2 linked regions of the Homo sapiens genome follow. The protein of the gene in region 1 interacts with the protein of each later gene in a pairwise test. Each region holds a gene or a part of one and is shown in the gene's direction. Other genes may lie near its edges.

Region 1 (8,260 bases):
TGTATGCTCTTCCATGTGTCCTCAGTCAGACACCATTACTAAAGGTAACCATAGAGGGATGTGTGGGAGAATACTTTGGTAATCCTGTATTTTGTATATAAACTCTATTGATATTACTAAGTAATCTTCTTTGATGATTAATATGTACATTTATTTGCAGATGCTTTTAATAACCTATTGAGTGGTATATGTATATAAAGAGATTATAGTAGATCCACAGAGGGGAAATAAAGTTGGAAATTTTTACTTTGAAAGTGACCTTGGCTGGGCATGGTGGCTCACACCTGTAACCCCAGCACTTTGGGAGGCTGAGGAGGTGGATCATGAGGTCAGGAGTTCAAGACCAGCCTGACCAATATGGTGAAACCCCATCTCTACTAAAAATAGAAAAATTAGCCGGGCATGGTGGTGCATGCCTGTAGTCCCAGCTACTTGGGAGGCTGAAGCAGGAGAATCGCTTGAACCCAAGAGGCGGAGGTTGCAGAAAAAAAAAAAAAGAGAAAGTGACCTCAGCTAGTTTAAGCTGGGATAAGGTGTCTGTTATAGTCACTTAGTATTTGCTGTTAGTTGGCTTATGTGTTATCTTATTTACCTATATTATTACTAAAATTAAATGGGATCTCATTGAATATGAATTTAAGATTCTAAGTTTGAAAGAAGCCAATTACTGAAATTACTGTTTTAATGCAACAACCTGTGTATTTTTTTTTAGGATCTCTTGAATCGTGTAGAAGATTTTCAACAGCATAGTCAGAAACTACTCTCTGAGGAAACGCCTAGTGCTGCGGAGCTGCAGGACTTGCTAGATGTCAGCTTTGAATTTGATGTTGAACTTCCACAGCTTGCTGAGATGCGTATCCGTTTGGAACAAGCCCGTTGGCTAGAAGAGGTGCAGCAAGCTTGCCTAGACCCCAGCTCCCTTACTTTAGATGATATGAGACGTCTCATAGACCTAGGGGTAGGGCTGGCCCCGTATTCAGCAGTGGAGAAAGCTATGGCCCGGCTGCAGGAACTGCTCACAGTGTCAGAGCACTGGGACGACAAAGCCAAGAGTCTCCTCAAGGCCAGGTGAAAAAGCAGACTTCTCTTTCTTTGGGAAGGTTGGACAGTTATCTCCAGCTTAAACACAGAGCACAATGATTGGTCTATGGCAAGTGCTCAGTAGCTGCGGTTATTATGCATGTGGAAGACATGTAGAAATAGCTGAGATATTTGGAGCTGCTTTGGGACCTGAGTAAAAGAATGTTAATTTTTTCTTATTTTACTGATTAAAAATGAATAATTCAATTGGACACACCTTTTCTAGAGTTGGTTTAATGAAATTTCCCTGGATCCTGTTAATATCGTGTCTTTGAGAGAGGAAAATATTTACAAATAGGTGAAGCTGTTTAAACTCACAGTTAATACGGTTCCAAGGAGTCTTAAAGAGAAATGTGTGAGAGTTAATAGGCACTGTTCTGCAAGAAAACAGTGCAGATAATTTTCAACAGGAATAGACAATGTCATTTGAAAAAAATTATTTGCCATACTGAATTTCCTTTGAAATGCTAGTTTTTTTGGTAACCATAAGAAAAATGAACCATCATATAAAATGCTAAGAAGTCTTTGTTTGCATTTTGTAGGCCACGACATTCATTGAATAGCCTTGCTACGGCAGTAAAGGAAATCGAAGAGATCCCTGCATATCTGCCCAATGGTGCGGCTCTGAAAGACTCAGTGCAGAGAGCCAGAGACTGGCTTCAGGATGTAGAGGGCCTGCAGGTTGGTTTTAAAAAGTATATACAGAATGTGTAAGTGCATCCATAAAGAGCAATATTGGCGCCCCGTCCGGGAGGGAGGTGGGGGGGTCAGCCCCCGACCCGGCCAGCCGCCCCGTCCGGGAGGTGAGGGGCGCCTCTGCCCAGCCGCCCCTACTGGGAAGTGAGGAGCCCCTCTGCCCGGCCAGCCGCCCCGTCCGGGAGGGAGGTGAGGGGGTCAGCCCCCCGCCCGGCCAGCCGCCCCGTCCGGGAGGGAGGTGGGGGGGTCAGACCCCCACCCGGCCGGCTGCCCTGTCCGGGAGGGAGGTGGGGGGGTCAGCCCCCCGCCCGGCCGGCCACCCCGTCCGGGAGGTGAGGGGCGCCTCTGCCCGGCCGCCCCTACTGGAAAGTGAGGAGCCCCTCTGCCCGGCCAGCCGCCCCGTCCGGGAGGGAGGCGGGAGGGTCAGCCCCCAACCCGGCCAGCCGCCCCGTCCGGGAGGTGAGGGGCGCCTCTGCCCGGCCGCCCCTACTGGGAAGTGAGGAGCCCCTCTGCCCGGCCAGCCGCCCCGTCCGGGAGGGAGGTGGGGGGGGTCAGCCCCATGCCCGGCCAGCCGCCCCGTCCGGGAGGTGAGGGGCGCCTCTGCCCGGCTGCCCCTACTGGGATGTGAGGAGCTCCTCTGCCCGGCCACCACCCCGTCTGGGAGGTGTACCCAACAGCTCATTGAGAACGGGCCGGGATGACAATGGCGGTTTTGTGGAATAGAAAGGGGGGAAAGGTGGGGAAAAGATTGAGAAATCGGATGGTTGCCGTGTCTGTGTAGAAAGAAGTAGACATGGGAGACTTTTCATTTTGTTCTGTACCAAGAAAAATTCTTCTGCCTTGGGATCCTGTTGATCGGTGACCTTACCCCCAACCCTGTGCTCTCTGAAACATGTGCTGTGTCCACTCAGGGTTAAATGGATTAAGGGCGGTGCAAGATGTGCTTTGTTTAACAGATGCTTGAAGGCAGCATGCTCATTAAGAATCATCACCACTCCCTAATCTCAAGTACCCAGGGACACAAACACTGCCGAAGGCCGCAGGGTCCTCTGCCTAGGAAAACCAGAGACCTTTGTTCACTTGTTTATCTGCTGACGTTCCCTCCACTATTGTCCTATGACCCTGCCAACTCCCCCTCTGCGAGAAACACCCAAGAATGATCAATAAAAAATAAATAAATAAATAAAAATAAAAATAAAAAAGGCAAAAAAAAAAAAGAGCAATATTGGAAAGTTGTGAAGAATAATACGTTGGATCTTGCTGCACAGTTTCAGTATTTTAGGGGTTGACCAGAAGACTAATTCTATTCATACTTATTTGGATGTACTTACCAGCTATTATCCTGACCAGTTGTCTCAAATATTTAAAGCTTAGACAGTGTCACCAACTTTTTCTGGGAGCTGGGGAGTCTTTCATAACAAACTTGAGTACTTGACTGCAGATTGAAGCAAAAGAGCTAACAATGAAGTAGTGAGAGAAAGTAGTTTTCTACTCTTTGATAAGTATGATTACCTCTTGTTGGCTTGTCCACAACTTTGAAGTTCAGACAATCAGTAATAGCAAATTCAGTGAATCTAGTTATATGACTAAATGCCCAGCTAAGCCCCAAGGCCCAGAATTTTCATGAAGTAGTGACTTAAAAGTACCCTCCCAACCCTACAAAAGAAATAAAACCTACCCAGTTCCAAAGTAATTATCCAAAGTATCCAAAGTCATTTCCACCAAGTATTTGTGGTTTTATGCTAGATGTTATACTTATTGACCTGTATATAAGTTTAAAAAAAGAATTAAATTCACTTGTAGCATTGTTAAGGTACAAAAAGAATTCATTCTTTAATATGATTTTCCCAGTTTTCAGACGACTGGCTGAATGACTTAATTTGAAACGTGTTTGATGGGGGATGTCTTCCCTTATCTCTTATCATCATAAACCAATAGGTGTTACTGACCTATTGAGAAAAAAAAAAGTCTCAAGTTCTATTTTGTTGAAGTCCTCAAATTCTAGAAATAAAATACGATCTGGCTTTCTGAATATTTGTGTAATTTTAAGTGGTGTTAATTGGCTAATTGCTAACAAGAAATACCAAACAGGACAATTCTAGACAAATGTTTGCATCTGTTCTTGTTAATAGGGAAAAGAAGATATATTGTTTGAGGAGATTACATAATTAAGGACTGACTCCAGCAAGCCAAAAACAAAAACAAAAGTATTTACTATGGACATAAACTTTGTTAATGAGAGTTTTAGATGCAGGCACTTGTCAATGATAGTTGGTATTGTAGTAATTAGTTTTAGTTATGGTCCTCCTTTTTACTCCATGATTGCTAGCAGCCAGAAGGTGAAGTCATGGCAGTAAGGAGAGGCTGACATATAAAATCAGAAAGCAAGGGCATGCTTCTGGATGAGTTTATTTCCTTCATATTTTATATGTATATGCTACTTACTATGTTTGTAACAGTGCCATTAAGGGCAAAAGGCAAGTTTTTTGCTTCATTCCTGAAAAAGTAGCCTACCTTTTTTTTGCATCATATATTTAAGGACTGCTACACATGACTAACAACAAGGAACTACTTCCTATTTAGTGGATTATTTAAATGTTATGCAGTATTCTGCTTTACACATAGGAAGCACTCGGATTTCTAAATTAAATATCATAGGAATAGCATTAATTTATGAGTCACATTCTTAAGTGTCCATCAGAACATTTATGCCCTAACAGATTTAATTCTGTAAGAATAAATATCAAAGGCAGCAAAATATCAACCTACCCAGTCTTCCCTAGTTGTCCCAAAAATGTCCCTTATGGCTGTTTGTCTAACCCAGAAACACATGTTGCACCTAATTGTCATCTCTTTAAGTTTCTTTTAATCTTGTAGCGTTTTCCTCCCCACCCCACTTTTTCTCATGTCACTGACTAGACAGTTATCCCATGGTATGCTCCACCTTCTGGATTTGTTTGATTGTTTCTTTGTGGAGTGTTCTGTTCTCTGTATTTCCTATAAATTGGAAGTTAGTTTTAAAGCCCTGGTGCATCCAAGTTAAACATTTTTTTAATATAATGCATTAAAATGTCAGGTAATACTGTATATTCTATATTGCATCACAACAGGAGATATATCTGGATGACCTACCATTAGTGATGCTAAGTTTTACATTGTATTGGAGCAACACCAATGCATTTCATCCTCCATAACCTTAATGCTTTTACTCTCCTAGTTTGGCTATCTCTTTCTAAAAATACAGTTCCCAGACCAGCAGTATTAGCATCGGCAACAGCAGCTTTACCTGGGAACTTGTTAGAAGTGCAAATTTATGGACCTTCCTCTGACCCACTGAATTAGAATATTTGGGGATAGGACTAAGGAAACTGTGTTTAAACAAGCCTTCCAGATGATTCTTATACATGGTAAAGTTAGAGAACCACTGGGCTGTCTCAACTTATATTTTAGTTTCCTGAATAATTTATATTGAGTTGCTTTAATTAATCATTGGTGAGTGGATTGGGGTAAAATATTGTTTTGTTGCCTTTTATTTGTGTAATTCAGTATGAAAGTCTTGAGTTACTACAAACCTTCATTTCTGTTGAAATTTTTTTCAAACTGTTAATAGGAACCAATGAGATGAATGAATTTAGAAGGGTATAAATAGAACAAAGGGACCACAGTATATGCCATGTTCACATTTGTATCCTTAGAGCCTAGCACAAACTAGGTTCTCTAGGCCCAGCACAGTGGCTCACTGTAATCCCAGCACTTTGGGAGGCCAAGGTGGGAGGATTGCTTGAGGCCAGGAGTTTGAGACCAGCCTGGCCAACATGGTGAAACACCATCTCTACTAAAAATATAAAAATTAGTTGGGCGTGGTGATGGGTGCCTGTAATCCCAGCTACCCGGGAGGCTGAGGCAGGAGAATTGCTTGAACCCAGGAGGTAGAGGTTGCAGTGAGCTGAGATTGCACCACTGCATTGCAGCCCAGGCAAGAGTGATACTCCGTCTTAAAAAAAGAAAAAAAAAACAACACTACCACCACCACCACCAACAAAAGACCCAAACTAGGTTCTCTGTTTGTGTAATGAAGGAACAAATGTCACTTCTACCCCCAATATCATTGGTCAGCTGGCAGGTTAGTCAGCGTTTGTGAATTTAGCATGTTGAGATCATGGAGTAATCTGAAGTACTCAATGGACCAATCTGAATTAAGCTTTTCCTGTTTTTCATAGAAGTGTTCTTTTCTCTAAACTGCTGTAATTTTTCTTGACTTATTAGGCTGGAGGACGTGTGCCAGTGTTAGACACACTCATAGAACTTGTTACACGAGGCCGATCTATCCCCGTACATCTGAATTCTTTGCCAAGACTGGAAACCCTAGTAGCTGAGGTTCAGGCTTGGAAAGAATGTGCTGTTAATACATTCTTGACTGAGAATTCTCCATATTCTCTCTTAGAGGTAAGTTTACAACCAGCTCATCTGCAAGACCTTAGATCTCCTAGTTTGGTAAAACATGCAGTTCATCACATACAAAGATGACATCACAGATTAATCTATATTCTGTGAGTTGTTCTTCCCGTAAAGCCAGGGAGACTCTTCTAATTTTCTGGTGAAGCAACCTTTAAATGTTTTCTTGGTTGATTTAGCATAACAGTATCTAAAGAAGAAAATTTTTTCCTATTGGGTGAAATTCCTCTGTGTTGAAATTGGACTCTTAAACTTGGCCGTGCTTCGCCCACCTGAATTTAGTAAGCCTGATAAATGATCTCCCCCATTTTTTAAAAGTGCTTTAACTGCACTTTTTGTATTTTCTGTAAACTTGCTTGTGCATCATGACTGGGATCAACCAGTATATATCACATTTTTAACTTGTTACTTAATTGAATAAGGAATCAGTCTATCTTTTATGAGTCTTCCTCCTCCTTTTGTAAAGGAGAGCCTCAGGGTTGCATGTTCCAAAGAAAATCTTCAATACTAAGAAATGCACATCCTTTTTACTGCTTAGGCTTTTATTTTGGGACTTCCTACATAATGCTTTATCTGAAATTTATTTTACCATTGGTTGTGCCTTGTCCCACATTAGGTGCTGTGTCCTCGATGTGATATTGGCCTTTTGGGATTGAAAAGGAAGCAGAGAAAGTTAAAGGAGCCCTTGCCAAATGGAAAGAAAAAAAGCACCAAATTAGAGAGTCTGAGTGACCTGGAGAGAGCTTTAACTGAAAGCAAGGAGACTGCTTCAGCTGTATGTAGGGTTTTTTTCTTCTCCTTTCTATGTTATTGGGAAGAATAATTTCTAACCCTTTCTGTTTTATAGGAATTTGGAGAAGGCAAGTAGAGTAACTTGAAAGCGTTCAGTTTTACTAAAAAGACTTTTTGAAAATTGTCAAGTGTTAAGAGTTTTGAATGGTAAGATGCATAGAGGTGGGAAAGATTCAGGGTAGGCTTCCCAGTCTCAGGGTCTTGCAGGCACAGAAACAGTCTTGTTTAGTGCCTGTGGGTTGATCCAGGAATGCTAACTAAAGATATTGAGACTAATATTAATAGATGTATGAAAATGCAATGCTAATTTATTAGTTTATAGTTAAGAAGTACATTTAAAAGTTTACTGGATACTTTGATACTCATCTGGAATACCTTACATCTCTGACCTGCATTTAGTAAATACTGTTGATTCAAAGATGATAGTTTAAAGAAGATGAGGCAATGTATAACTAATGTTACACATTAAGCACCTTATCGGGATAAAAAAGGGATAGCTATGTGATGCTTTTAATGGCACAAAGCATTGCCCGTTCTAGAGTGGGAATGTATACCTGCTACTGGGACTAGATTGAATGGGTTCATCTGTGGATCTGGACACCTTCTCCCATTGATTTCTTTGTAGCTGCCAGACCTCTTGTGATAGACATGGGTTGCCTTGATTTATTTAGGTATTTTGACACAGATGTTCTTAGTGTATATTCGTATATTCAGTCAGGTTCTAGACAGAATTCTGCCATCAGAGGTCCTCCATTCCATCTGTGGTTTGTTTTTATAAAGACTAACTGAAAGTTACAGTCCCCCTCTCCTGAGGTGTATATATGTTGGTTTGAAACTTTATATGCAGTATCTTTTGTAGATTTTAGTCTGTCCATCTGTCTGTAGACCCCTGGTTTTAAGAATTCTCCCTACGTATTATCTGTTAATTTATGGTAGAACTCAAAGGTTAGTCATTTGCTTTCCATCTCTAAGCTGTCAGAAGTTACCTTGTTATCATATAACCCACACATATTACCTGTGTATTATATTTACAAAAGAAGTGGATTTTTTTTTTTTTTTAATATACCCAAAGGTCTTTACCTGATTTGCTTTTAGGCTTTTTTTTTTTTTTTTTAATAGAGATAATGGAGAGTTTATTCTGGCCTTGTAAGGGTGCTTCATCTGGTGAATCGTGATGGATCTGAAAGGGGATAGATGTGGTGATTGGAAATGGTTTTTTAACTGTGACAGATTTTTT
Region 2 (16,737 bases), on another chromosome or scaffold:
CGACTTCTTAGGAAAATATTTAATTTTTAGTCTCTATTTCTTCATCTTTAAAACAGGGAAATGATATTCCCAACCCAGAGATGTTATGAGTATTCAATGAGATAATGCAACCATATGGCACATAGTAAGCATTTATTAAGTATTGTCTGTGGTTCTAAGTGGCAGTTAAAAAGACACGTGTAAAAGTAAGTAATATTTATCAGAGTATACTTTGTTCTGAGAGACCATAGTCAAAAAGCTTCAAGAGATTTTGTTACAAACAATAGAAAGAGTGTATATAAAGCACCTACCATAGAAGCAAGCATTTAATAGGCGCTCAGTGCTTTTTATTAGGTCATCATTGATTGGAATAACATTGTGAAGTATAGAGTTGAAAAAGTTTCTAATTCCCACATGTCATTGATGAACCCAGTTTATATATCAAGCAGTCATAATCCCAAAAAAAACCCTTTATACTTATTATTTATTTATTTATTTTGAGACGGAGTCTAGCTCTGTCGCCAGGTTGGAGTGCAGTGGCGCGATCTCTACTTATTGCAGCCTCTGCCTCCCGGGTTCAAGCGGTTCTCCTGCCTCAGCCTCCTGAGTAGCTGGGATTACAGGCACGCGCCGCCACACCCACCTAATTTTTGTGTTTTTAGTAGAGAGAGGGTTTCACCATGTTGGCCTGGCTGGTCTTGATCTCCTGACCTCGTGATCCACCCACCTCGGCCTCCCAAAGTGCTGGGATTACAGGCGTGAGCCACCGTGCCGGCCAGTAATTTTTATTTTCTCTTCCTTGAATTATAGATCTAACATTGAAATTTGTTTGGAAATGCTTAATTTATAATACACTTCAAAACTAAACTGACAAATTATTTAAAATAAAAAATTTGAAGTTTTAAATAATTGATATTCTGATTATTAAAAATAGATTACATTTTATATACTAAATTTTAAATCACTAAATTATCACATTTATAAAAGAATATAATTTAAAGAAATAAGTAACCAAATAAATATTGCTCTAAATACTTAATAAGCTATTTTTTCCAGAATAAAAATATTTATATGAAACTTACATTTGCGAAGTTCTTAATTGCAATATGCTAATCTTCTGCATTGCAATGTATTTAATAGTTAGATAATTCAAATGATGTAAAATTTCAAAACCTGAAAAGTTTCTAAGAATAATATAAATTAGTGGCTACTCTATGATAATTATCAAAATAGTGCTTAATGTTGAAGATGTGCCAAGTTCAGCCGTGCCATTTTTCTGAGCAGTTTTGAACTTTAGACATTGATTTCATGTAAGGTTAAATTGCACATTAATACTTGTTTATAAACATACAAAGGTAAAGTGTTGCCCATATATGTGCATTTCTCTTACCAATATTCAAAGGGCAGATTTATTTTTAAAAGTTATTTTTCAAAATGGAATCAGCATATTTCAACCAAAATGTAAACTCTGGTAACACGTATTTTTCCCTCTGCTTATATTATGGACAATAACTTGAATGTCTTTGGCCAAAAAAAAGCTTTAAAATTTTTCCCACTTTCAGGGCATTTGTGATTGTTATTAAATAGTGCAAAATTATATGATACTAGTTTAATTTTATTATACAAAGAAGGAAATTGAGAATTCAGAATCATAGAGCTTAAAGCATATTTTTCTTGAGGACATCTGTAGAATTACCAAAGGGCTAAACTATGCAACTGAGTATAGATACTATTGATTACCATAATCTAGAGTTTCTATTTTCAGCTTAAACTGTAAAGACAGATGTCCTGATTCCTAGTAATTAAAACTGTATGCACATTTCAGCTATGCATATACCTATCTTTTGTCTTTGAAAATTCAGTGTAGAATATTCTAACTTGTCTTACATATTAATATTACATTGTAATTAATATTTTGCAGTGCCATTCAGAAGTCCTTATTGTCTCTGAGGATAGAATATTTATTTTGGCTTTTTTATACCCACAGTTAATATTGGGGCTAGAAGTACTTAATTCCATTTACTTCTGAATGGCAACAATGTTCTCTGCTTCCTGATGGCCGGTTCTCTTCTGTTGAAAGCATAAAACTCCAATGGAATAAAATTGAGTGGCCAAAAAACCTTATATAGAGAATCATAGGGACTGGAATACATTTGCCCTTTTAGGAAGTATTTCATGAATTAATGCCTCAATTTTATTCAAACTATATATAAATAATTGTATAGTTCTTGAAAAATTTTCTACAAATGGGCATACTGTCTCAAGAAAGATACATTGCATATCTGATACTCTAAAGTAATTGGAGTGACAGATTTATAAGCTTTGGGTATCTTCATTTTGGGGTTGCAGATATTAATTTGGCAAGTTTAATATAACACTAGCTACAGACTGAGATGTCAGAAATAGAGAATAGTCTATAAATACTTGAACTTTTTAAAAGTTCAGAATTAAGTTGTGAAAATAGTTGAATTTAAAGATATAATCTGAAATTCTTATGAAGCATTTACTTGCACATGCATTTGAAGTGAAGATAGTCTTCTAGAATCCTGAATGTGATTTTCTAGTGTATTATTTTAAAAACTGGCTGTCCTTGTGGATGTACTATTCTCAGGAAGATATAAATGATATTGCACTAAATTTGTCTTCATATTAAAGTTAATTTTTGTAAATAAGTTATGATTTATAGACAATGAAATCTTAGGCAAATGCCAGCAGAGTGTCTTTGAAATTCATAATGTTATCTGTTATGAAAAACATTCTTTGACCTGGTTACATTTTAACCAGTAGTATTTCAAAATAAAATTAATGATCATGTATCAGTAAAATGTATTGTATAAAATAGCAGGGAAAGGTAATTGCAAATTTTTCAAGGCTATGTCAATTTTAATAATATTTTGGAAAATTATAAAATTTAGAAAAGCTTTTAAATAGCGGCTTTCCATTTCTTAGAGACATTTACATCTACAATATGATAAGTAAGCATAATTAAGATCTTGTTGGATGAATGTTGAAACCATATTTATAACCATCATTTCATTTTGTCAGGTATGTTTTACTAGGTCATTGCATAATGCATTAAAAATGGAAGAATGACAGAAAAATGAGTTCACCAAAAAAGAGAAAATCTTGTTTATTTTCAGATCCAAAACTTTTTCTTGCTTATGATATCGAGGTTGAAATTCTAGGTGAAGCACATCTCTATTTGTGGCTAAATCTACTTTATTATAAAGCCAAGGTAAATTCATTTTATCATAAGAGGACCAGGTTGAACTGATAAGTGAAAGCAGATTGTGGGTAGAGGACCTGGCACTGTTATTTGCATTTATCTTCACGATAAATAATGTTGAGTAGACAATTCCCAGAATTTGAATAATGGTCTATAACCTCTAACTGCCAGACATTTGCCATACCAGTTTTATGGTGGTCACAAGTGTTTTGATACTAACGTATTTTCCTTTACTTGGAGGAGGGAGGATAAATGGAATAACCATAAATCAAGTAATAAATGGCTAGGTTAGAACTTCTGTTTACTTTTTTCAACAGCTTTATTCATTTTGCTTGCTTAAAGTGTAATGCTTGTTTTGTGATAAACGGTGCCTACATTTTTGCTTTGTTTTTTAAGCTACAGTGTCACATCTTTTGCTTTCACAAACCTATACTAACTTAAATATACATATGGTTGTGGAATGCTTATGATGTATCCTGTTTTGTGGGGATACAAGATGATTAAGGCAAGTCCCTGTCCTCAGACAGTTTACAATCTAGCCCTCTGCCAATACAGTTCCTCAACATATTCACCAAAGTTACTTTTAAAAAATTGGTAAATCTGTATTTTGAACATTTGGAACAAACGAAATTAAAACTTGTACTTTCATTCTTCTTGTGATAACCTTAACTAGAAGAACTACATTGCATCTTATATATTTTTTTCTAGACTATTTCCGTTAATGTCAGTGTGATGAAGTTGGTCTTTTCCTAAAAGTATTAAAACAAAGCAGTAACTTACTTTTTCTAGGGTATGCAATTTAGTCTATTTTGCTTTGTATTAGTAAATCTCCTTCTCAAATTTAGGTAGAAGATAGTTTGCTATAGAGAGCACCCTTGCACAGTTCTTTCAGGGGAAAGAATTCTCATGCCTTTCATGGAAGATCCACATGAGAAAGGAGTTGATGGATTGAAGTCTTATTTATGGAATCTTTAGGTAAAGTCATTTTCAAAAATGAGATTTCCATTACATGCCCATTGCTGGGGTTTCATTTGGAAAATTTGTTTACTCTTCCCTGGGGATTCCGTATGTTGGTTGATTTATAAATCATATTTACAATCCAATTAAATAGAGTAATTTAGCATGTTTGCTCCCACTATATTTATAGTGTAGATTTGGTAGTCTCTACTCAGCCTAACTAGCTTTTCAGATTAATTACATGCCCTTCACTGAAAACATTAAACCGATTTGGGACGTTTAAGTCATGTACTCTTTTACTGGAAAGAATAAACAAACATCAATGCTACCTGTAGTTGTTTTCCTTTGCGGTGGAAAATTTTACTTTTTCAGTGATTGCTTCATAAATAACAATTACTTGACCCAGTAGAGATTTATATCTTTTACTAATGTTATGTGTCAAAATTAATAGTGAGAAAATTGATGTGTTTATTGAGTCACTAAAATGAATAAATAATGAAGGTGGCAGGAGGCAGGTAAATTTTAAAGCACATTTACTTGCTCCTTTTTTTTCTAAATTTATAAATCTGAGCTTCAAAAGTAAAAAGTAAAATTAAGACAAAACTCTCCAGACCCCCAAGCTAGGGTCATAATTTAACCTGAGAGAAAACTAAGGGCTATTTTTATACTGTTTAAGTTTAAAGATTTATGTTTGTTTTTTTTTTTAAGCAAACGTTTTAGCCTCTCCTTGCCTTTTTCTTTTTTCTTTCTTTCTTTCTTCCTTTTTTTTTTTTTTTTTTTTTTTTTTTTTTGAGATGAAGTCTCACTCTTGTTGCCCAGGCTGGAGTGCAATGATGCGATCTCGGCTCACTGCAACTTCCGACTCCCGGGTTCAAGCAATTTTCCTGCCTCAGACTCCCAAGTAGCTGGGATTACAGGCACCTGCCACCACACCCGGCTAATTTTTGCGTTTTTAGTAGAGACGGGGTTTCACTATGTTGGCCAGGCTGGTCTTGAACTCCTGACCTCAGGCAATCCGCCCGCCTCAGCCTGCCAAAGTGCTGGGATTACAGGCGTGAGCCACCGTGCCCGGCCGCCTTTTTCTATGAGATGAAATCAACCATCTCCGAGCTTCTCTTCCTACCCTGTCTTTCTGCAGTACAAAGGGATTGCATCACTAAAATGATACTAAATAAATATTGTGGATTTAAGAGAACTTTGAAATATTTAGTACTAAGAATAATGACATAAAGCAAGTTTGTGCATTAAGTATGAGAAGTTGGACAAACATGGAAAAATTTGCTCATTTTTTTACACTTGATAAATGAATGTAATCATGGAATAAATAAGGCACTAGAAGTTAATACAGGCCTAAATCCAATGTCCTGCCTGCCCCTAAATTCCAGGAACATTATCTAAGATAAAAGTTCAATGCAGCATGTCTCTGAGGGCCATCTTCCAAGTGGGTCCATGTAAGGGGACCATAGACATTGCAACAAAACAACTGAAGAGTCCAAGTAAATGGGGCAGATCAATGAGCAAGAGTTCCAAGGGCAAAGGTGTAAGAAAAGGGAAGATGACTAAGCAAGGATTTCAGAGAGAACTGTAATTTTGAATGATAGATAAAATACAAAGAAAAAAGAATGGGTAGGAAAAATTTAGCTGTGATGAAAAATAGAACTCGCCAACAGTTCTGTTCTGCTAACTAGAACATTGTTTCTGCCATGTATAATATTAAATTTTTTAACTTTATGTCCCTATATGATGTTGGCCAAAGATTTTTATTATTTTAGAAGTAATTTTAATGTTAGCATTCTTATTTCATTATTCTTAGTTCACATTGGCATCAGTAGTATAAAACATTAGTCAATGCTGGAAATGAAAATATTAGTTAACACCACATACAGATGTGAACACCTTTCCATAACTGAATTGGATTTATTTCTTTCCAAACTCATTTATCATAGATTATTGGGACAATTCTAAATAAAAATGATTAAAACTATAATCTCTATGCAAAACTAGATTTTTTCCCCTGTAATTTGATAGTTCTCTATCTTGATACCCATCTCCTGAGAGCCTTAAAGTGTGTCTCCTTTGAGACATAATCAGCCATTCTCAAAAAGTGGAAGAAACTATTCTTTTTTTAGAAGGGATCTGACAATGAGAATCATGTTCTAGGAGAGAAAAGAATTTGTTACCAGATGTTATCTCAAAAGATGCACTAGTTTTAAATTAAATTGCATCTATCTTTTAAGTGTTCAGGAAAAACAGTATGATATGCTACAGAGGACCCTGCATTGGGCAGGGGTGATAAATTTTTTTAACACATGGCCACTGGCTTGCCAATTGGTTGAGGGTACATGGCTAAACCTCTTAATCTATATCCTTGTATAAAAAGAGGATAAGATTTCATTTGTATTCAACAGTTATGTGCGGTAGTTTCTTGATTTAAAAAATGCAGCAGCATCATTCTCTGGGACCCTTAAAATACACTTTAATTTCAGTTGAACATTGTGTTGTATTTGTGACACACTATCTTGTAATTATGATAAACTCAATCATTTATAATGAACTATATAATTCATTAATACTCATTACTCAGTAAAATATGTTGGATATTTCTTGGTGCCTGGGACATAGGACACACTTAAGAAACTTTAGCTTCCTTTCTCTTTCCCTATTTTCAAAGAACCAACATTGAAAAACACAACATGAGGTGTTTGTTCTTACAGAGCATAGACACAAGGCTAACCCCTCTAATATTTTTCTTTTTTTGTCAGAAATGCATGAGTAATGTTGTCATACCCACGTATGTATTCTATTCCATGTACATATTCATTTACTCTGCATTGAGAAAATAGTTTTTGAGACCGCACCACTGCATTCTCATAGATGTAGAAGTGAAAACAATAGCCCAAATAAATTAAATTAGAAAGTAATTCCTGTGTTGCAATTGAACGGGAAAAAGTACCTAGCTAACATACATCTGATTAACTTAATTCTAAGGATTAAATCAATTTTCCTCATAAAATTCTAGTATTTACATCGTATTTTCACTAGGAAATATATTGAAATGGTAGTTCATTCATGTAACTATCAGGACACAGCATCTACACTTTATTTCTAAAGAGTATAAAAATTGAGGGGAAAAAATTAGACTACTTGAAGAAGGATGCCCAGTGTTCATGCCAGAATCAGGATTAAAAATCAGGGTGTTTTTAGTGTTGTTAATAGTAACGATACCAACAATAATTCACTGGATGCCAAGACAGCACTGGTTTCTCGGCAGGCTCGCCTGCCGGGACTGCTGCATTGTGTTTGCAAACAAAGATTTTAATTTCTAAATTCACTTCAAGAGATTTATCCACGTGGCTTTTAAAAACTCACATCACAGGACCCAAAAACTTTGCAAGCAAAATTTCCAGTTTCAAAACCAGGCATATGCAGTTCTTTTATATGGGGAAAGACAGTTTCCTTTCTGATAAAACAGTCCTGGAAAAGGCACTTGCAATATTCATTTAAAAATCCTTACAAGACAAAGTGCCTGATTTTTGTATGTCCTTTGTCCAACGGGCATTTTCAATATGATCTCTTAAAATATGGTCTATATTTTCTTTAACGAAGGTCGTGTTTGTTGTGCGTTTCTAACATGACAGGCTGCAGTCTGTGCCCTTCTTTACTGAAAATGAAAGTTATACCAACCAGGCCTGTCACAAGTGCCTCAACAAAAGAGCCAAACAAAACCCAAGTCCCAGGAAGGTTGACAAAGGCAATGAGGACAGCCGAACAGATTCTAAGAGTATTTAATTGCCATTAATTCTTTTCTCACCCTGCACCTCCTTCCTGTACTTCCAAGTGGCACAAGCAAATACTACGAATTTTCTGGTTGCAGCTTTCTCTAAATGTTTGTGGAAAGAATAATATCTTGTCATTATGTTTGTTTAAGTGGCAAGACTGTGAATGTCTTTAGAATATAATAAAGCTCAAATTTTTTTAAAAAGTTGGAGAGTAGAGTCAGAGCATTGCTGGCTTACTCAGACTTAAGTTCTGCTTCTTTCTAAGAACGTGTGAAATGTTCACTCCTATAATGTGATTATTTTTCACTTCTTTTCTACTCCTCTCAGGCACCAAATGGTCTCCCAGCTGTGGGCAGTTTTGTGTCAGCATCCAGCATGGCTCCTTACCCTACCCCAGCCCAAGTGTCGCCTTACATGACCTACAGTGCTGCTCCTTCTGGTTATGTTGCTGGACATGGGTGGCAACATGCTGGGGGCACCTCATTGTCTCCCCACAACTGTGACATTCCGGCATCGCTGGCGTTCAAGGGAATGCAGGCAGCCAGAGAAGGTAGTCATTCTGTCACGGCTTCCGCGCTCTGATGGGAAATTCCGTCTCCAGCAGCTTCACCCGGGTCTCCCTGTCTCAGCACCTCCTCCCCCAATTCCCAGGTCTCACATCCCACCCCTCCTGCCCTCCAACCCTTCTGCCTTGAAAGCTGGCTGTACGGACTCACATCCTTTGTGCTAATGACACTTACATATTTCTTGCCATAACTTTTCTCTTGCAGAAAAACTGACATGACTTTAGGATTTAAAAACAAGAGCAACAATAAGCATTGAATGAGACATTTGTGTTGCCCACATACTGTCTTAACATAACAAAGAAACCTACACCCCTCAAAGGGTTTAAGGAACTTTACAAACTAGTCTTTGGTAAAACCACATGTGTATATTTATTCTAAATCAACCTGAACTTTTGAAATGTGCAATTGTTGAGATTTTGCAAAATCAATAAAGGAAAATACTTATAGAAAAAATTATGCTACACCCTCTAATCAAATATGGTAACCAAGTAAGCTTTAATTCATCATTAGGAAACAAATCAATAAGTGACTTGTTTGAGTGATCCTTTGTTTAAGACATGACCTATTTTGTTGAAAAATATATGTAGAACCCAAGCAATATCTGAATCTAGCTCTCCCTGGTGTTTTGACTTGGTTCCAAATACAATAATGTTTATATTTTCTATTAGTTTGTAAATACGGACTCTGGATGGTGCATTTGTGTCTTCATTCCATAAGATATTCCCCTCCCCTCAGCCCCACCCCCTCTCTATTTTTTTCTTTCTTTTTTGCAAAGGTGACTTTCTGGCAACGTCTTTGTCTCTGTTTGGTGGTGGGCTGCTCGGGCTCCTGGACCTGGACTTGCCCCCAAATTTTGTGTATGCAGTGAAGGCTTCAACATCTCATGAAGGACACTTTATTTCTACAGCAGAGGACACGAAAAACAGATAAAACAAGCCAGTCTCCCATTTTGTACCTAATCAAACAACACACATGCTAAGCATATAAAGACAAGAGGGTGGAAAATATCTGAACAAGAAGGCTCTAAAGGAAGTCACTTAGAAACTTAAGTTTAATGTGAAATGTTTTGCAAAGATGCTTAAAATGAACTTTGTGTTAAGAAAACCACTGTGAAACTAAATTGTCCTATTATTGTTGGCTTACCTGTGTGTTCAGCAATCTCAGCCCCAAATAATGTTGTAATTTAAAGAAAATGGAAAATTCTGCTCTAATGAATGTAACAATGGCTTGCTGTGAAGTTTACATTGTTGTACAGAAGCATGTTTCGCATGTAGGTAAACTGGTGGTGGTACTAGAAATACAATGTTATTTAATTTTAACAAATTCCCTTTATTCATTTCTGAAATTACAGGACACAGTTTAACTCATAAACCTTTCTAGACCAATTTATTTTTCACTTTAATGTTAATAACAGTTGTGGAGTATATGTGTGTGTGAGCATGTGAGTATGTGTTGTATTTTAAAACAATTGATTTTCTGGGGCAAAATTCTACAGTTTTTAATCCCTTCTGTTTAGGAAGTTCTTCCTGTTTGGCAATATAGGCTTAAAAATATGTTTTTAGGACATTGGTACAATTCAGCTGTTGGAAAATTAATATATTGAGGGTTTTTTGGTACTAATTCTGTGCAATAACTAAAAGAGCACCTCACTGGATATGGATGTTGAAGATGGATTCCCTAGGTGATTTTAATTTCTTCCGGTCTGTGCTGTGCACAGTCTACATGGCAATGCGGTTCCACCACATCGGTTTCGTGGCTTCGTTTAAAACTCAGATGGCTAGATTAGTTAGGTTTTCAAATCACTAGGATGTAAACAGTAAGCAGATTTCTGACACACAAATTATGTTAGAGTGACTGCTTTTTTCAGACAGCAGATATCTTATAGAGAGCTTTGAACTGCATTTATTTCTAAAGCAACCGAAATTCAGTGCTACAAATAGAGGATTATAACTTCAGGAGAAGAATAAGCAGAAGGAGCAGATGAACTCTCAGGGCCATAGTCTTCCTTTGATCTTGTAAAACTTCCATTGACATCTGGAGTTCCCAGTCTGGTGAGAAAATAGACTATAAACTGAATGGAACAAAGATCCAATCCAATATTTTGGTGGAGACTTCTTTAAAACCATACCATACAGGGACTCTCCTGTCATCTGAAAAACTGATGTAAGGTACAGAACTATTCTTTATCAAATGTTTTTAGGTGGCTGTTAGGGGGCTTTAAAAAATATTACTTGCTTGTGTGGAAATGCAAATAATGTTATTTTCTTTATCTAAATTAAGAAATCTCTTGTTATTGTGCTATTTATAATTTTTTTCTGGTTCTTGTATTTTAAAAAATCTAATATTAATGGTATTGAAGTTTCCTTTTCTCCCTCTAGGTCTTAACAGTGAATTCACATGGAGTAATTTTTAAAAGATATCAGATACAATTTGCTATTCAAAGAAAATTATGATTTAAAGCCACTTTTTAAAATACGAGAAGGAAAATAGGATGGATTAAAGGGTTAACTTTTAAAGATTATTATTGGTTAATGTTGACATATTTCCTCTATCTCATAGATGGTAAAAGTGTTGCTTTTAAACTGGCAAATGCACTCTTCAGAAATCCTTTTCTATCTGATCCACATGGAGAGGTTAAAGGTTCAATTTCATGACCTCTATGCAGGCAGCGCTCTCATTGGATGTAAGAATATTACCTGCAAGGATAGAATGCAGTTGTGCAACAGAGACACATTCTTATTTCTTTTTTTTCACAATTTTGTTTTGTTTTTAATGACCCTTTTATTGAATATTGGACTGAAATATAAATTTTAAAAAACACGTTGGAAAGGATGTACAACAGAAGGCTATGTATGTATATACAGTATGTCAAAAGCCTTTTATTTTTATACTTCAAATGCTCTAAATTAATAAAAAGTAATAATTACCATGTTATCTTTTACTTTTTATTTTCAAAATGCTTTAGTGAAATAGCCCCGTAGTAGAAATAGCCCACGGTAGTAACTTAGGACAGGTGTCATATGGACTTTCAGTTATTCTTGTTGACTTTACTGAATCAGCATCATCTCTGGATGCAGATATAAAATCAAGTTTGGTTACATCAAGACCAAGGAGATATTTTTGTTGATACATGTTAGTATAGTAATCCTTAGAAATGCTAAGTGTATTTCTTTTTCAGAACATTTCCCCTTCATCATACATATTTTAATACTGCAGACAGCTGACTTCCCACCTGAAGTTGTCGTTTAAAACTAATAACCTGAAAATGCAGTTCTGTTCTATACATTCTTCCTAAAAATGGCACAGGTAGGCATGCTGAATAAAGGTATTTGGATGCAAATACTGATGGCTGACAAATGGGTCCAAAGGTGTTTCCAATTTGTGATTTAACATGACAATATCTCATCAACAAAACTTATCTTCAAAGAGAACTATGTGGAGGAAAGTAAATTTTATTTCATGTTTCCTACTTGTGTTAGAAGAGATTTGGAATACCTTGATTTAAACATGCTTAAACAACAGTGTTTTAACATTCTGTTTTAAACAATGTTTTAAAATACCTATTTATTATCTTACAGCAATATGAGATATAAAGTAGATGTAGGAAAATAGAGCTGATATGTGCATAGTTACTAAAAAAAACCAACAGATTTACATTTTAACATAGTATTCATAAAATTAAACATTCTTAAAAGGTCATTTTAGTGCACTTTAAAAAATTTTTCTTGTGCTCTTTAAATATTATTTATGGAATAATTTAATTCATTATAAAAACTGCTTAAATTTTGGCTTAACTTTTTTTTAATCCAGTCTTTGAATAATTTGATTTATTTTCAATAGTTTAAGCATTTCTAGACCTCTTAGGAAAAATGCTGATCAATACAATGAATTTTCATTGTGAAGCATTGAAGAGGAACACAGGAGACAAAGTTTCTATTTATTTTATGAAATAAATATATGATTTCTATGCTATTTTTCTATATTCACTTTAAATACCTCATTGTTTCATATTATTTTTTTCTTCTCACAGTTTTATTTATACAGCCAAAACTATAATCTCAAGTTGCCTATAGACATTTTTTAAAGTATTAAAATAGATTTTGTTCTTGAACAGTTTTCTCCTTCATAATTATACACCTGGCCGATCGATAGTCTCTCTTCTTCATGGTGCTGCATAGCAAATATCCATTATCTCAAGGGGGAAAAACACTTCATAGGCAATCACCAGTTCTCTTGAAGCCATGAATAGGTGTATTCATAAACCAGCAGCATCACTGCACCACCTAGAAAAGAAAAGAGCTGTTTTTTATTGCAAATCCTCTGGAATAGCACTGGCTTTCCCACTGGGTTTCTGAATCCATGATGTCTCGCACAGCCTGTCAGGCAGAGGCTGTTCGGAATCAACAGTTCTGGAGCTTCAATACCAAGATATAAACTACTGTGGAAAATTCTCAGGATAAAATCAAGACCATCTTGAGTCTCCAAATACATTTTTCCCCATGAGTTTTTGCAACTTTCATCATTTGTCATCAGATTCTTTTTCAAGCACTTTCAATTTTTAAAAGTAAATAAATATAGGCATATTTAGTCATGTAAGGGCATGTGGCTTTCCTGTGAACAGAAACCTTCAGATTCTTCATGTGTAGATAAAGGATTTATCTTTTTCAGTCCGTAATTAGCAGTCTTAATTGCATTCAAGAAGAAAATCTCTAAGATGGTGCTTGATGGATGAGTCTAGTTTTCTGTCATAGCTTTCAAACTGCATTGCTACGTGGAAATTAGATTCTGAATATTTAAAAAATCTGCATTGCAAAACCTAACAAAAGGAGGTTGAAAGCTAACCTTCATTCCTTTTATCTGCTTCAGTTGTATATGGATTTGAACTTGAAAATTTGGTAGTGGGGGTTGGATGGCATGAGACCACCATTTGTCTTGGAAGAAAAGAGCTACATAACTGGCTGTGAAGAGACATGCTCTGTATTATGTCAACAGGAATGTGATACAGAAAAGCAGGCACTGAGGCTGCTGAATACCTAGCCACTGGGAGAAGCATTTGTACATGGATCATTTTATGTTCTATTTGATGCAGTAAATAGCATGTGTCCTGTGCCCTTCAGGATAATCTCTTTTTATCCTTTTATGTCTAACTGTGTGAAAAACATCACAAAATCAAAATTTGGACAAATATCCTGAACACAACTTAGAGAAGACTTGGCTGCATGAAATAGAAGATTGACTTCTGATGGAAAGAAATAGAACTTGATTTGGGTCTTAGTTATTTTGAACACACTGCCATATACTTTTTTTTTTAATCTATAGGCTGCACATGTTTGTGTAACCATATACCAAAGATAATTATCTGCCTGTAATTTTCATTTTTAACCCATGAAGATACTCTATTAGTCCCTCTTAGCTTCTCTAGGCCTCTTGGAACTCTGGCAAACAAAAAGAGCTGCACTACAGAGGGTCATTAATGTGTAGGTAATCGCTGCATTTATTCTTACTAATCATTCACAATGTAAGACAAGAATATGCAGAGTTGGGTTAGTTTTTGGCCTAGTAACAGTTGAGGTTTAAATCACAGACTTCAAGATTCTTTCATGGAAGGTACCTGATTGTTAGCCACATTGAGCTGCTAAGGCTATTGTAAAAATGCTGGATGCTTCTCCAGAACAAAGAACAAAAATTCCAGGCTCACCTTTCTTTTCTTTTTTTTACTGTCTCTCTCTCATTCTTTTTTTTTTTCTCTCTCTCTCATTCTTTAAAGAAAAAAATTTCACCCTTCATTCAAAAGTCTTAATCTTTAACTCAGTGGTACCTTTCTTTCTAGGTTTCTTTGCTTTGAAGTCGCTGGGATGCACACATTTGGAATGAAGTGGAGGGCAGGTCTGTGAGTGGTTCCCAGATATTCACAGTTTGGCTTAGCCTGGACAGTCAGTTCACAAGAACCCTTTTCTTTGAGTCTAACACCACAGCAACTCAGGACCTCTCACGCAAAACATTTAAAAAGCCAGCCAAACATTTGCAAGCCTCTAACAAAACTTGGGGTCAGATTATTTAAGAGTTTTGGATGAAGGTTCCAGTCAATTACCATTTTAGCTAACCTCTCCCTTGTCATCACCCTTTTTAGGCCCATCCCTTTCTGAGAATGTTGGTTGAGGGCTGGTGCTGTGATTTCCTCTCATATTAGGTCTACTAGCAGGTTTTTACTCTGCGGTGAAGGAAAAACACCACATACTGGCAGAGATGCACAAAATTCCCCACGTTCTATTACTGCGTTAGCTTTTACACATGGGCCAATAACTAACGGAAGGTAGGTCTGAATCCCAAATATGAAACAAAATCCATGTGTAAAGGCCTATAAAGATTGGGATAGATGGGTTGGGAATTGTGGAAGTGTTTCCTAAATATATGAAAGTGTGAGCTGTTCACCAGCTTCAATTTACAGACTCTTGTTCTCTATCTTAGATTAATAGAAATGTTGGTTCATTGGGCTGAGATCTAAAGGTGAATGTGCATGTGTGTTTGTGTAGCAGGGTAGGAGGACAATAGTGTTAAAAGGGAGGAACTGCAAAGGGAGAGAGGGGAGGTGTAGGAGAAGGTTCTAGGAAATATTACCAGTATGTATAAGTAGGTGAGTGTAGCCTGATAAAAAAAATATATGTGTGGTCTAGAGTATACTTTTGTACTTATTCACAAGGTTGCTTATAATCTGAGACTATTTGCCCTGGCGGTTGAGTCTGCAGAAGTTATTTTCTTATCTATTTACATAGAGGCAGCCGATTCTCCCTGTGGGAATGGCAGCCGGTTTTTTTGTGGGTAGGCGTCCTGAAGTGAGGCCCTGAGCCAGAAGCCTCCAGCGTCATGCTGACAAAGCCCAGGAGAGGTAAGCAGCTAGTTACGGTGTCACCACTCCCCAGAGGTGACTGTAAAGATGAGTGGCTTTGCTGTTCATGGAGGCAAGCTGTCCTCCTTTTCTTTTTTTGAAATGAAGTTGAGGCAGGAGCAAGAATGAATTAGGAGCACGAGGAAACGTTTGACTGGGCTGGTCCCTCACTCAGTGAAAAGCCTCCCCTTCAGCCAGAAGCCACTGCACACACCTCGGCTCTCACTCAAACTCCAACTGCCTGTGGCTTCTTCCTATTGACTTAAGCTGGGTTTTGGCTTCTGTTAGCCTCCAGCAAGTTCATAAATAGTACTTAATAAACAAAGGTAGAACATTTCTAATGGATGTCTTCAGTATCTCAAATACTCATAGACAACTTTATATTCTCAAGGTTTCTGTCTTTTACAAAGTGGTAAATATTTTGTTGCTGATGGACACAAATATCAAAAAAAGAGACGCTAGAACAATAAAGAAGGAAGGATTAAATAATCAAAATTATCATTACCTGGTCCAAGTCTCATAATCTTGGGAAGCAGGCCTTTGTACAAAGCTAAAATCCTGTAATGGGAAGGGAAAGAGAAACGTTCTTATTCTGAAAATAAATGGAGTTGTACCTTAGCTTTATTGAGATAGGGACCCAGCATTTAAAAAAATAAATTATTTGGAATTACACACATCTCAAAGCAGACAGCATCTTAGTATTCTCTGCAGCAAACTGGATGCGGGGAAAGAGTTAATGAATTCTTTATTACCCAACTGTGCTGGTCCTGTCCAATCAGAAACATGACTTTCATCAGTGAGATGGTTTTTGCTTTCAAGACAGGTCTTACTTTCAAGACAGCTGTGTATATGGACAGAATGACTTTTGTAATTGAATTTAAAAGACCACAAACTCAGTCTTTACATTAGGAAATACGATGCAGTTTATATCAAAATAATAAAATATTACTTGTTTACTTGAGAAAAAGAGGGGCGAAGAAACAGAAAGTAAGATTTAAAAGAATCAGAAAAATGCACATACTTTAAATTTTTAAAAGTGTTTTTACAGAACTCTATAATTCTCCCAGAAGAATATAATTAGGTGGCAATTTAATGGGATTTACAGCCAGAAGACAATTATTCTTCTGCCTATATATTAGAAGGACATATACAATACTACATTATACAAACTGCCAAGTAGAAAGTTCACCTTGGCATTCTAAGGCAAACAGGCAGCATATTGTCACTTGATGGTGTAAGCACATGTTTACAACATCTTACTATTGTGTTGTCTTGGAAAGTTTGTCATATATATTCGCAGTTTCTTAGACACAAGCTCCACTTAGGAGGGCTTACTGGTTCTCA

What was found.
Region 2: the proteins of KDM5B (region 1) and PAX9 interact in a two-hybrid assay, tested with the Homo sapiens proteins (one study listed by BioGRID).

What each region holds. Positions count from the first base shown.
Region 1 is NC_000001.11:202,734,175-202,742,434, reverse strand, and holds part of KDM5B (lysine-specific demethylase 5B), read left to right. Parts: coding exon 1-44; intron 45-712; coding exon 713-1,068; intron 1,069-1,622; coding exon 1,623-1,761; intron 1,762-6,042; coding exon 6,043-6,222; intron 6,223-6,847; coding exon 6,848-7,006; intron 7,007-8,260. UniProt on the Homo sapiens protein: Histone demethylase that demethylates 'Lys-4' of histone H3, thereby playing a central role in histone code. Does not demethylate histone H3 'Lys-9' or H3 'Lys-27'. Demethylates trimethylated, dimethylated and monomethylated H3 'Lys-4'.
Region 2 is NC_000014.9:36,667,930-36,684,666, forward strand, and holds the end of PAX9 (paired box protein Pax-9), read left to right. Parts: intron 1-8,268; coding exon 8,269-8,523; 3' UTR 8,524-10,554; coding exon of another isoform or gene 10,555-10,555; 3' UTR 10,556-11,433; downstream 11,434-16,737. Other genes in the region: SLC25A21 (mitochondrial 2-oxodicarboxylate carrier), read right to left, coding at 12,729-12,790, 15,899-15,951. UniProt on the Homo sapiens protein: Transcription factor required for normal development of thymus, parathyroid glands, ultimobranchial bodies, teeth, skeletal elements of skull and larynx as well as distal limbs.